Linked DNA regions of Homo sapiens. The protein of the gene in region 1 purifies or fractionates together with the protein of each later gene. This does not show direct contact. Each region holds a gene or a part of one and is shown in the gene's direction. Other genes may lie near its edges. The genes, in order: RALY, CWF19L1 and HNRNPUL2.

Evidence for each region.
Region 2: the proteins of RALY (region 1) and CWF19L1 purify together in Homo sapiens (affinity purification with mass spectrometry; one large-scale study listed by BioGRID and IntAct). This does not show direct contact.
Region 3: the proteins of RALY (region 1) and HNRNPUL2 purify together in Homo sapiens (affinity purification with mass spectrometry; 2 studies listed by BioGRID and IntAct, with this or other methods). This does not show direct contact.

Annotation. Positions count from the first base shown.
Region 1 is NC_000020.11:34,073,823-34,077,476, forward strand, and holds part of RALY (RNA-binding protein Raly), read left to right. Parts: coding exon 1-44; intron 45-2,051; coding exon 2,052-2,218; intron 2,219-2,879; coding exon 2,880-2,993; intron 2,994-3,205; coding exon 3,206-3,423; intron 3,424-3,654. UniProt on the Homo sapiens protein: RNA-binding protein that acts as a transcriptional cofactor for cholesterol biosynthetic genes in the liver. Binds the lipid-responsive non-coding RNA LeXis and is required for LeXis-mediated effect on cholesterogenesis.
Region 2 is NC_000010.11:100,234,169-100,236,742, reverse strand, and holds part of CWF19L1 (CWF19-like protein 1), read left to right. Parts: intron 1-978; coding exon 979-1,076; intron 1,077-1,665; exon of another isoform or gene 1,666-2,574.
Region 3 is NC_000011.10:62,717,413-62,721,066, reverse strand, and holds part of HNRNPUL2 (heterogeneous nuclear ribonucleoprotein U-like protein 2), read left to right. Parts: intron 1-875; coding exon 876-1,044; intron 1,045-3,654.

The DNA of each region.
Region 1 (3,654 bases):
TACATCTTTGACTATGATTACTACCGGGACGACTTCTACGACAGGTGAGCAGGGGAGGGGCGTGCCCAGGCATGAAACAGCCAAGCTGGAAGGGTCTTGAGAGATTGTTGGTGCAGCCCACTGAGTTCTCCAAATGAGAACCAAAACCCAGAGGTTTGCCTGGGGTTGCTCCACCAGTCGGTAGCAGAGCTGAGACTGGGGTCCTGTGCTGCAGGTGCTCAGGCCAGAGCTCCTACCACCATACAACACTGTCTGCCATGCTAACTGCCCTTTTTCCTTCTTGTCCTTGGGTGAGGCTCAAGGAGACCGTACAGCCAAGAGCTATGTAAGTGTGGCTAGTTGGAATACACAACAGGGTACAGCGCTGGTTGCAGGGAGTTTGAGCCCTTCCCTCTGTGAGGTGCCCAAGCAGCTGGTAGGAGCCCCAGAGCTCAGTCTAAGCTTCTTGGGTTTATATTTAGAGACAAGAGGCCAGCAGCCATTTGGAAGTCTAATTAGTCCCTGGCGGGCTGTGGTCTACCCTGCACTCCCAAGCCCTACCCAGACTCCAGCCCAGAGGCTGTGGGCTCCCACTACAACAGCACTAGCCACATTCTTGAGTAGAAATCATGGTAGATACTAACTCAAATCTCTCCTCCTCCCTGCTTCTCTCCCTCTGTCCAGCTTAGCCCACCCCAGGCAGCCCAAGAAGAACAGTGCCTCTCTGAGCATGAGTCGTCCGCCCCCATCCCCACCCCGCCCCTGTGAGTCGTTTCAGGAGACAGTGTGGTGTAGTGGAAAGTGTCTTAGCCTGGGGGTCAGAAGATTTAGATGCTAATCTCAGCTCTGCCACTGAATGGATTATGTGATCTTGGGCAAATTCCCTTCCCAGTTTGTGAAATGGGCTTGCACCAAGTGATCTCTCCAGGCTCCTCCAGCTCTGGGATTCTGTGGTTCAGTGATTCTGACCAAGGCCAGAGCCGTTCCCTCCCCTTGGGGGCAGAAATGCAGGGTCTGGGATCGGATCCATTCCCAGAGACTCTCCATCTGCAGCCATCACCACCTCCAGGAAGGGGCTCCCTGAACAAAGGAGCCCCAAGGAATGGGGCTTTTGCCCAGTGATGGCAGGTTTCCTGGCCGTTGTCAGGAAAATTGACCCAAAGTTTACCCCCTGGGCTGCGATTCCCTGAAAAAGGTGGCAGCAACAGATGTCAGAGAGACCACTTCTCAGCCTACTGAGTTTCTGCCTGGTCAGCTGGAAAGGAAGCCCTCCTAGAGAGGGCTTGGAGATGACTTTGGTTGGGGGCAGTGCACAGCCTGGGAGCCCTGGGGGGGTCTGATTGAGCTGCCCAACCTTGATACTCTACCAAGCCCCTGGCCTTTGTCTCTGGAATGGAGCACGAAGGATGTGGTGATTAAGGAGGTCAAGTAAGGAAAGGGCTTAGAGTTCAGTCTTATGCCTCTGAGGTCATGGGTTCGTGAATTGAGGGTCTCAGTACCCTGACCTTTCATCTATTACACGTTCTAAAGTGTGTTTTTAACCGAATTCTTTCATGCTGTGCCCTTGGGTGGACACTGAATGTGGATAGCCATCCTCATTTGGCATATGGGGAAACTGAGGCTCAGGTAGGCTCAGTTGACCCCCACTCCCATACCTCTCTATTCCTAGCTGGGGATTTGTGCTGCTTTGAGATTTGCAAACTCTGAGCAGAGGTTGGGGTGGCAGTTGACCAAGCAGAAGCCAGGTCATGTAATAGAGCAGGCCTGGGTGCCAGGGGACCTAGGGATGTCTCCTCTTTTGAATGGGGTATAACTGCTACCACCTGATGCCTTGCCTGCCCTTACTGGGCCTGGATGGTTGGAGAGGTTGTAGTGAGGTAGTGAGGATCCCAACAGCCATCAGGGTCCGGCAAGCCCTTCCTCTTCACTCCAGGGCTTGCTAGGAGCCAGCAGAGGTGTGTAGTGCAGGCCTCCCAGCCCCTCACCAGCCACACACGTTTGTAGCCGGAGCTGCAATACCGCCCTGGTGGCCACAAGCCATGCTGCAGCCTCTGGCCCATCTGCCCTCACAGGCTCTTCGACTACCGGGGCCGTCTGTCGCCCGTGCCAGTGCCCAGGGCGGTCCCTGTGAAGCGACCCCGGGTCACAGTCCCTTTGGTCCGGCGTGTCAAAACTAACGTACCTGTCAAGCTCTTTGCCCGCTCCACAGCTGTCACCACCAGCTCAGCCAAGATCAAGTGTGAGTGACTGTATCATATTCCTAAGTAATTTGCATTTTTATCATTAGCAAAATAATAGAATCACATTTTTTACATTGGAACATAGATAAAACAACAAGTCTTCCACAGTTCTGCTGCTCTAACACAGCCAAGTATTTTCATGCATTTCTAAGAGGAAACAGCTGATGTTTTAGGAGGAGGGGTTGTGTTGGGCACAGAGAGTCCAGTGCTGGATATGGTGCCCAGTGAAGAAATGGTGCCATCTTTCCTCTAGTAAGGATAAGGACAGGTCTACCCAGGCCCATTACTCCACATTCACTCTGGTACACACATGCTGCTTAACTAATCACCCAGGAATTCAGATTCCAAAAGACACATGTTCTTGCTCAGGTGCACACAGAAGAGCACACCACACATACACACCTGTGCTCCTGTCTGTCTTTGGTCCCTTTCAGAGTTGAGAGATCAGGAGAAAAGATAGCCAGGTTCAGAAGTGTGTGCTGTCACTGTAGGGATGGACGCCAGGTAGTCTAAGGAGGAGACCTTTTTCCTAAGCAGGGAAAAAACAAAACAAAACAAAAAATAACTGCTTTCCTGGTTGAAAGAACAGGGCTGAGGTTTTGTGCTAGTGTCAAGCCTCCAGCCCCCTAGGTGACAGCCCTGTCCCCCCTCCACTCCCAGTAAAGAGCAGTGAGCTGCAGGCCATCAAGACGGAGCTGACACAGATCAAGTCCAATATCGATGCCCTGCTGAGCCGCTTGGAGCAGATCGCTGCGGAGCAAAAGGCCAATCCAGGTCAGCCTCTGAGGATTCTCACCCACCTCCATGACCAGGGCACAGGGCAGAGCATGGGGAAATAGTACATGGGAGAGAGGAGCTAGGGTGGCCCTGCAGATCCTGGACCACCTGCACTCACCATGCTGAGGCCAGCTTCCGCTAAGGTGCTGCCCTAGACAGCTACCCCAGGCTGAGTTTTATTCTCCCCTCCTCCACCCCTTCCCCTCAAGATGGCAAGAAGAAGGGTGATGGAGGTGGCGCCGGCGGCGGCGGCGGTGGTGGTGGCAGCGGTGGCGGTGGCAGTGGTGGTGGCGGTGGCGGTGGCAGCAGCCGGCCACCAGCCCCCCAAGAGAACACAACTTCTGAGGCAGGCCTGCCCCAGGGGGAAGCACGGACCCGAGACGACGGCGATGAGGAAGGGCTCCTGACACACAGCGAGGAAGAGCTGGTGAGGGCCTGGCCAGGGGCACGACTGGGACTCGACTGTGCTCCTACTCTCAGGAGGCCAACAGGGGAATGGGCAGCCTGAGCTGGTTGCCCCCACTGTGAACTTCCTGTTCTCTCCTTCCCAGGGGTTCTGGTCCTGGGGGAAAGAGGGAAGAATGAGCAGGGGGCACTTGCCTATCTCAGACACCATCAGAAGTCCCACTGAGGCCTAGGGCAGACCTCCCCCAAATGC
Region 2 (2,574 bases), on another chromosome or scaffold:
GTTGGAGTGCAGTGGCATGATCTTGGCTCACTGCAACCTCCGCCTTCCGGGTTCAAGTGATTCTCCTGCCTCAGCCTCCCCAGTAGCTGGGACTACAGGCATGCGCCACCATACCTGGCTACTTTTTGTATTTTTAGTCGAGACGGGGTTTCACCATATTGGCCAGGCTGGTCTCGAACTCCTGACCTTGTGATCTGCCTGCCTTGGCCTCCCGAAGGTATTACAGGCATGAGCCACCCACGCCTGGCAAGATCTGGTTTTTGACATGTTGAGCCTAAGGTTTTTGACATGTTGAGCTATCAAGGCATTCCAAAAATGTTATTAAATAGGCAATGGGTTGGGCATGGTAGCTCACACCTGTAATCCAACACTTTGGGAGGCTGAGGCGGGAGGAGCACTTGAAGCCAGGAGTTTGATACCAGCCTGGGCAACAAAGTGAGACACCTTGTCTCTACAAAAAATAAAAAAATAAGCTTGGCATGGTGGCATGTGCCTGTAGTCTTAGCTACTCAGGAGGCTGAGAGTCAGGAGGATCACTTAAGCCTAGGAGTTTGAGGATGCAGTGAGGTATGATTGCACCACTGTACTTCAGCCTGGGCAACATCGCAAGACCCTGTCTCTAAAAAAAAAAAAAAAAAAAAGAGGCAGTGGACAATTTGGAACTAGAGCACTGGGTATTGACTAGACTGGAGATGAACAGGGCATTACTCCAAAGTTTAGTGCTTTCCTGGGAAGAGCAAGAAATTAGAATTTCCTAAGGTAGGAACTTAGAAGGATAGACGCCACTGGGAGGATATTGTTAGTATCTTCCAGTTAGACTTTTTAAGCCCTAGTTCCACTAAGTGGCTTGGGATCTATAGCAACATACATATCTTTTTTTCTTGTGCATTTAGACTGAATTATTTGCCTAGAGATGAACTCAGATTATAGATTTTTAAAGCATTATTGGACATCCTCATACAACTCTGTTTACTTTAGATTGCACAGCCAGGAGCAGCATATTTTTATGTTGAACTTGACACAGGAGAAAAGCTTTTCCACAGAATTAAAAAGAATTTTCCTTTGCAGTTTGGAAGGTATGTTTTTCTTCTTTTCAATGTATTTTCACTAGACCTGCTATGAACAGAGTGGTGGGCTACATGGGACAATTGATAAAAAGCTAAATTGTAAACAGTCCTTGCCCCAGAGGACCCATGGTCTTAGGGCAGATGTTTACATATATGACAGTAATGTAATGTAGAATGTGAAGAGTACCATGACAGAGTTTTGGAGAACAATGTGCTGTAGAAATTCAGAAAAGGGACAGCTCATTTCTAGTTGGTGAAAGCCTTCATGAAAGTGGCAAAGTTGAACCTGAGAGGCATATTTAGAGGGCAAAGATTGAGGTGAGGGCATTCTAGCCAGAAGTGCTAGGGAACTTTAATTGAGCACATACTCTGTGCCAAGAACTGTACCAAGAACTTTACACATACATGACTCATTTAATCTTCATAACTCTGTAAGGTAGGTACTGTCATCCCGATTTACCAGTGTGGAAAATGAGGCTCTAGAGCAGTGCCCGGTAGACTTTTCACAACGATGGAAATGCTCAAATATCTGCACTGTCCAATACAGTTGTGACTAGCCACTTGTGGCCACTGAGTGCTGAAATGTGGCTAATGTGACTGAGGAACTAAATTTTTGATTTTATTTAATTAATTAGAATTTAAATTTAAATAGCCATACCTGGCTAATGGTTACCCCACTGGATAGCAGGCTGTAGAGAGCTTAGGTAGCTTGTCCTAGTCACACAGTGGTAGGTTCAAACCCAGGCCTGTTGGACCTCAAAACTTGAGGTCTTAACCTCAGTGTTCTACAGTATGGTAAAGGCCTAGAGGAGGCTTCAGTTCTGTTCCTCGTATCAGGCAAAACATGACTGCAAAACCATAGAGGGAGTAACATAACTTAAGCAAAGATTGAAGATGGGAAGTTGCTGGCAAGAAGATACAGTTTGAAGGGGAGTGGAAAATGTGTAGAACAGAGTATCTGATGCTGGTGTCTGTGATTTGCAGCTGTTTTTTCTCCCCTAGTTAAAAATGGGCTTTGAGTGAGCCTTGAACCTGTCTTGGACTAATTCAGAAAGCCTCCAAGAGATTGCCCCCTTAGATAAGTCCAGTAAATGTAGTTGTCTACATTTTTCAAAAAGATAAATGGGAACAAGTGTGCTACGAGATTCAGACATCTGACGTGATGTTTTCGTTGTTGCCTCAGCAACAGATGCGGTTATGAACATTGACAACATAAGCACACGATTGCAGATACACATAGGCGTATAAAGCACACAAAAAGAAGATTCTCTGAATGGTTTTGTGCTTATGATGTATTTTCAATATTGAGTAATTATCAAGATACTAATTTATAGTTATATAGCATTTTATAGTTAACAAAATATTTGAAATGGCATATTTTTTTCAGCTGTACAAGAAAGGTAGTTCTATTTTCCTTTTATATTTGAAATAGGCTCAAAGTTTGCCCAGGGAGCTTAGGTTCTTTGACTTATAGAGAATTCATGATTTGTTTCTAACTCTTCTATTT
Region 3 (3,654 bases), on another chromosome or scaffold:
GAATTCCTGGCTCCACCACATTCTGGTTTGTGATCTTGGATAAGTCCCTTATCCTTTCTGAACCTCAGTTTCCCTGATGAGCAAAACAGGATAATACCTGTCATGTAGTTTGAAAAGTTAAAGAAGATCATGTGTATTGACCCTTTATCTCGTGTCTAAGTTGTCAAAGATACTGAGTCTTTTTTTTTTTTTTTTTTTTTTTTGAGACCGAGTCTCGCTCTGTCGCCCAGGCTGGAGTGCAGTGGCGCTATCTCGGCTCACTGCAAGCTCAGCCTCGTAGGTTCATGCTATTTTCCTGCCTCAGCCTCCCGAGTAGCTGGGACTACAGGTGCCCGCCACCATGCCTGGCTAATTTTTTGTATTTTTAGTAGAGACAGGGTTTCATCGTGTTAGCCAGGATGCTCTTGATCTCCTGACCTCATGATCTACCTGCCTCAGCCTCCCAAAGTGCTGGGATAACAGGATTATAGGCGTGAGCTGTCACGCCCGGCCTTTTTTTTTTTTTTTTTTTTTTTTTTTTGAGATGGAATCTTGCTCAGCCGCCACCCAGGCTGGAGTACAGTGGCGTGATCTCAGCCCACTGCAACCACCATCTCCTGGGTTCAAGCGATTCTTCCGTCTCAGCCTCCCAAATAGCTGGGATTACAGCACCCACCATCATGCCGAGTTAATTTTTGTATTTTAGTATAGATGAGGTTTCACCATGTTGGCCAGGCTGGTCTTGAACTCCTGACCTGAGATGATCTGCCCACCTCGGCCTCCCAAAGTGCTAGGATTACAGGCGTGAGCCACCGTGCCCAGCTGATACTGATTCTTTTGGTTAAATCTGAGTGATAATTTTCTTCCTAAACATCAGTTATTCCTCCTGTTCTTAGTGTAATGTGTACAATTCTGGCCAACGGCGGAAGCTATTGCTGTTCAAGACCTTCTCTCGGAAAGTGGTGGTGGTTGTCCCTAATGAGGAAGATTGGAAGAAGAGGCTGGAGTTGAGGAAGGAAGTAGAGGGAGATGATGTGCCTGAATCTATAATGCTGGAGATGAAAGGTGGGTGTCTTAGTCCATTTTCTGCTGCTATAACAGAATACCATAGACTTCATAATTTGTAAGTAATAGAGGTTTATTTCCCTCATTCTGGAGGCTAGGAAGTCCAAGAGCATAGCATTAGCATCTGGTGAGGTCCTTCTTGCTGCATCATTCCATGTCAGGAGGGCAAAAGGCAAGAGGGCACATGTGAGAGAACTTGCTTTTATAACAAAGCCACTTTCACAATAATGGCATTAATCTATTCATGAGGATGGAATCCTCATGACCAAATCACATTAAAAGTCCCACCCTCTCAATACTGCTCATTGGGGATTAAGTATTCAACACTTGTACTTTGGTGGGACATAACTCAAACCATAGCAGTGGGCTAAAATTGTACAAGTTAAAGAGATCTTATCCCTGGTCAGTGCACACCTTATTGAGGTCTCTTAGCAACTGGAGTGACACTCTACATCTAAAATGTAAATCTGAAGAGGAACTTAATGGTCGTGAGCACTTGTAGATAAATGAATGAACAGAGAGAAGCAATAATTTTGACTCATTGTTTTCTTGGTTTGTTTTGGTTTGGTTTTGAGACAGAGTCTCACCCTGTTGCCCAGCCTGGAGTGCAGTGGTGTGATCTCAGCTCACTGCAACGTCCACCTCCTGGGTTCAAGTGATCCTCTTGCTTCAGCCTCCCAAGTAGCTGAGATTACAAGCATGTGCCACCATGCCTAGCTAATTTTTGTATTTTTAGTAGAGATGGGGTTTCGCCATATTGCCCAGGCTGGTCTTGGAACTCCTGACTTCAGGTGATTTGCCCGCCTTGGTCTCCTAAAGTGCTTAGATTATAGGCATACGCCGCTGTGCCTAGCCGCCTTGGCTCGTTTTGAAAAAGATACAGAAAGGGAAATAGTGAGCCAGGCGCGGTGGCTGACGCCTGTAATCCCAGCACTTTGGGAGGTTGAGGTGGGTGGATTACAAGGTCAGGAGCTCACAACCAGCCTGGCCAAGATGGTGAAACCCTGTCTCTACTAAAAATACAAAAAAAATTAGTCGGGCATGGTGGTGGGCGCTTGTAATCACAGCTACTCGGGAGGCTGAGGCAGAGAATTGCTTGAACCTAGGTGGCAGAGTTTGCGGTGAGCTGGGATTGTGCCACTGCACTCCAGCCTGGACAACAGAGTGAGAAGACTCGGTCTCAAAAAAAAAAAAGTGACCGTAGGGTAATTTAAACTCAAAGGATCAAGGGAGAGGCTTCTGTGAATCAGTTATTTGTTAAGTAAATATTTCTGGTACATCTACTGTTTGTCTACATTTCTTATTCTGCTTTTTTTTTTTTTTTTTTTAAAGACAGAGTCTTGCCCTTGTCGCCCAGGTTGGAGTACAGTGGCGCGATCTCGGCTCACTGCAACCTCCGCCTCCCGGGTTCAAGCGATTCTCCTGCCTCAGCCTCTTGAGTAGCTGGGATTACAGGTGCCCGCCCAGCTAATTTTTGTACTTTTAGTAGAGACAGGGTTTCGCCATGTTGGTCAGGCTGGTCTCGAACTCCTGACCTCAGGTGATCTGCCCGCCTCGGCCTCCCAAAGTGCTGGGATTACAGGTGTGTGCCACTGCGCCTGGCCGCAGGGAGAGATTATTATGGTTCAGATTAAAATATGGCAGTTGGAGTGAATGATCTCATTGGTATAACTTGATTTCTGGTATCACGTTATGTTTGTGTTTTGTTTGTTAATTTGGCTGAAGTCTGTAATGCAATACATAAGACAGAGAGTAATGTCTACATAAGAAATATTAATATTTTGATTGATCCTCCTATTCCCTTAAAACGTGATTTTTTTTCCCATTGCTGCCTTTAGTTCCTGACATCCCACCGAGTCTAGCAACTGCTTGCTCTTCAAATACTGATAATCCCCAGGCATGGGAACTGGTTTGCATATCTATGAGCCAGATCCTCAGAGTTTACTGAGAATGAACTATGCCAGTCCATAACTCTTACTTAGGCACTCAGAGAAATGTAGCTCAGTTTTATAAAATTGAGGGCCAACTGGATTCATCTAAGAATCATGAGAGCCCCATTGAACTGAATTTCCACTGGGACTCAGCTTCTGAAGTTGACGTCCAGAGACTGGCAGATGTGCTGGCCTATCACGGACAGGTGGTAAATGAGAGCCCTTGTACTCTTGTCTTCTCTTCTCCTTGTATAGATGAGCAGATGCCTTTAGGCTTGGGTCAGTTTCTCATTGAGTCTCTCTTCTGTCAGCGAGGCCAGAGTGCAGTGGCACTCAGCCTCCCGAGTAGCTGGGATAACAGGCACCTGCCACCATGCCTGGCTAATTGTTGTATTTTTAGTAGAGACAGGGTTTCACCATGTTGGCCAGGCTGGTCTCGAACTCCTGACCTCAAGCAGTCCGCCTGCCTTGGCCTCCCAAAATGCTGGGATTACAGGCGTGAGCCACCATGCCCGGCCATCTCTGAGTCTCTTTTTAAAATGTTATTTCTTAGCATCTTATCTGACCAACACCAGAACTTTCTCAGTTACTTTTAGCCTCTGGTTACCTGCTTCTGTCCTGATGAGAAACTTTAACCCAGTTCACTCCTAATTTATTATAGATCACTTAAGAACTTGTA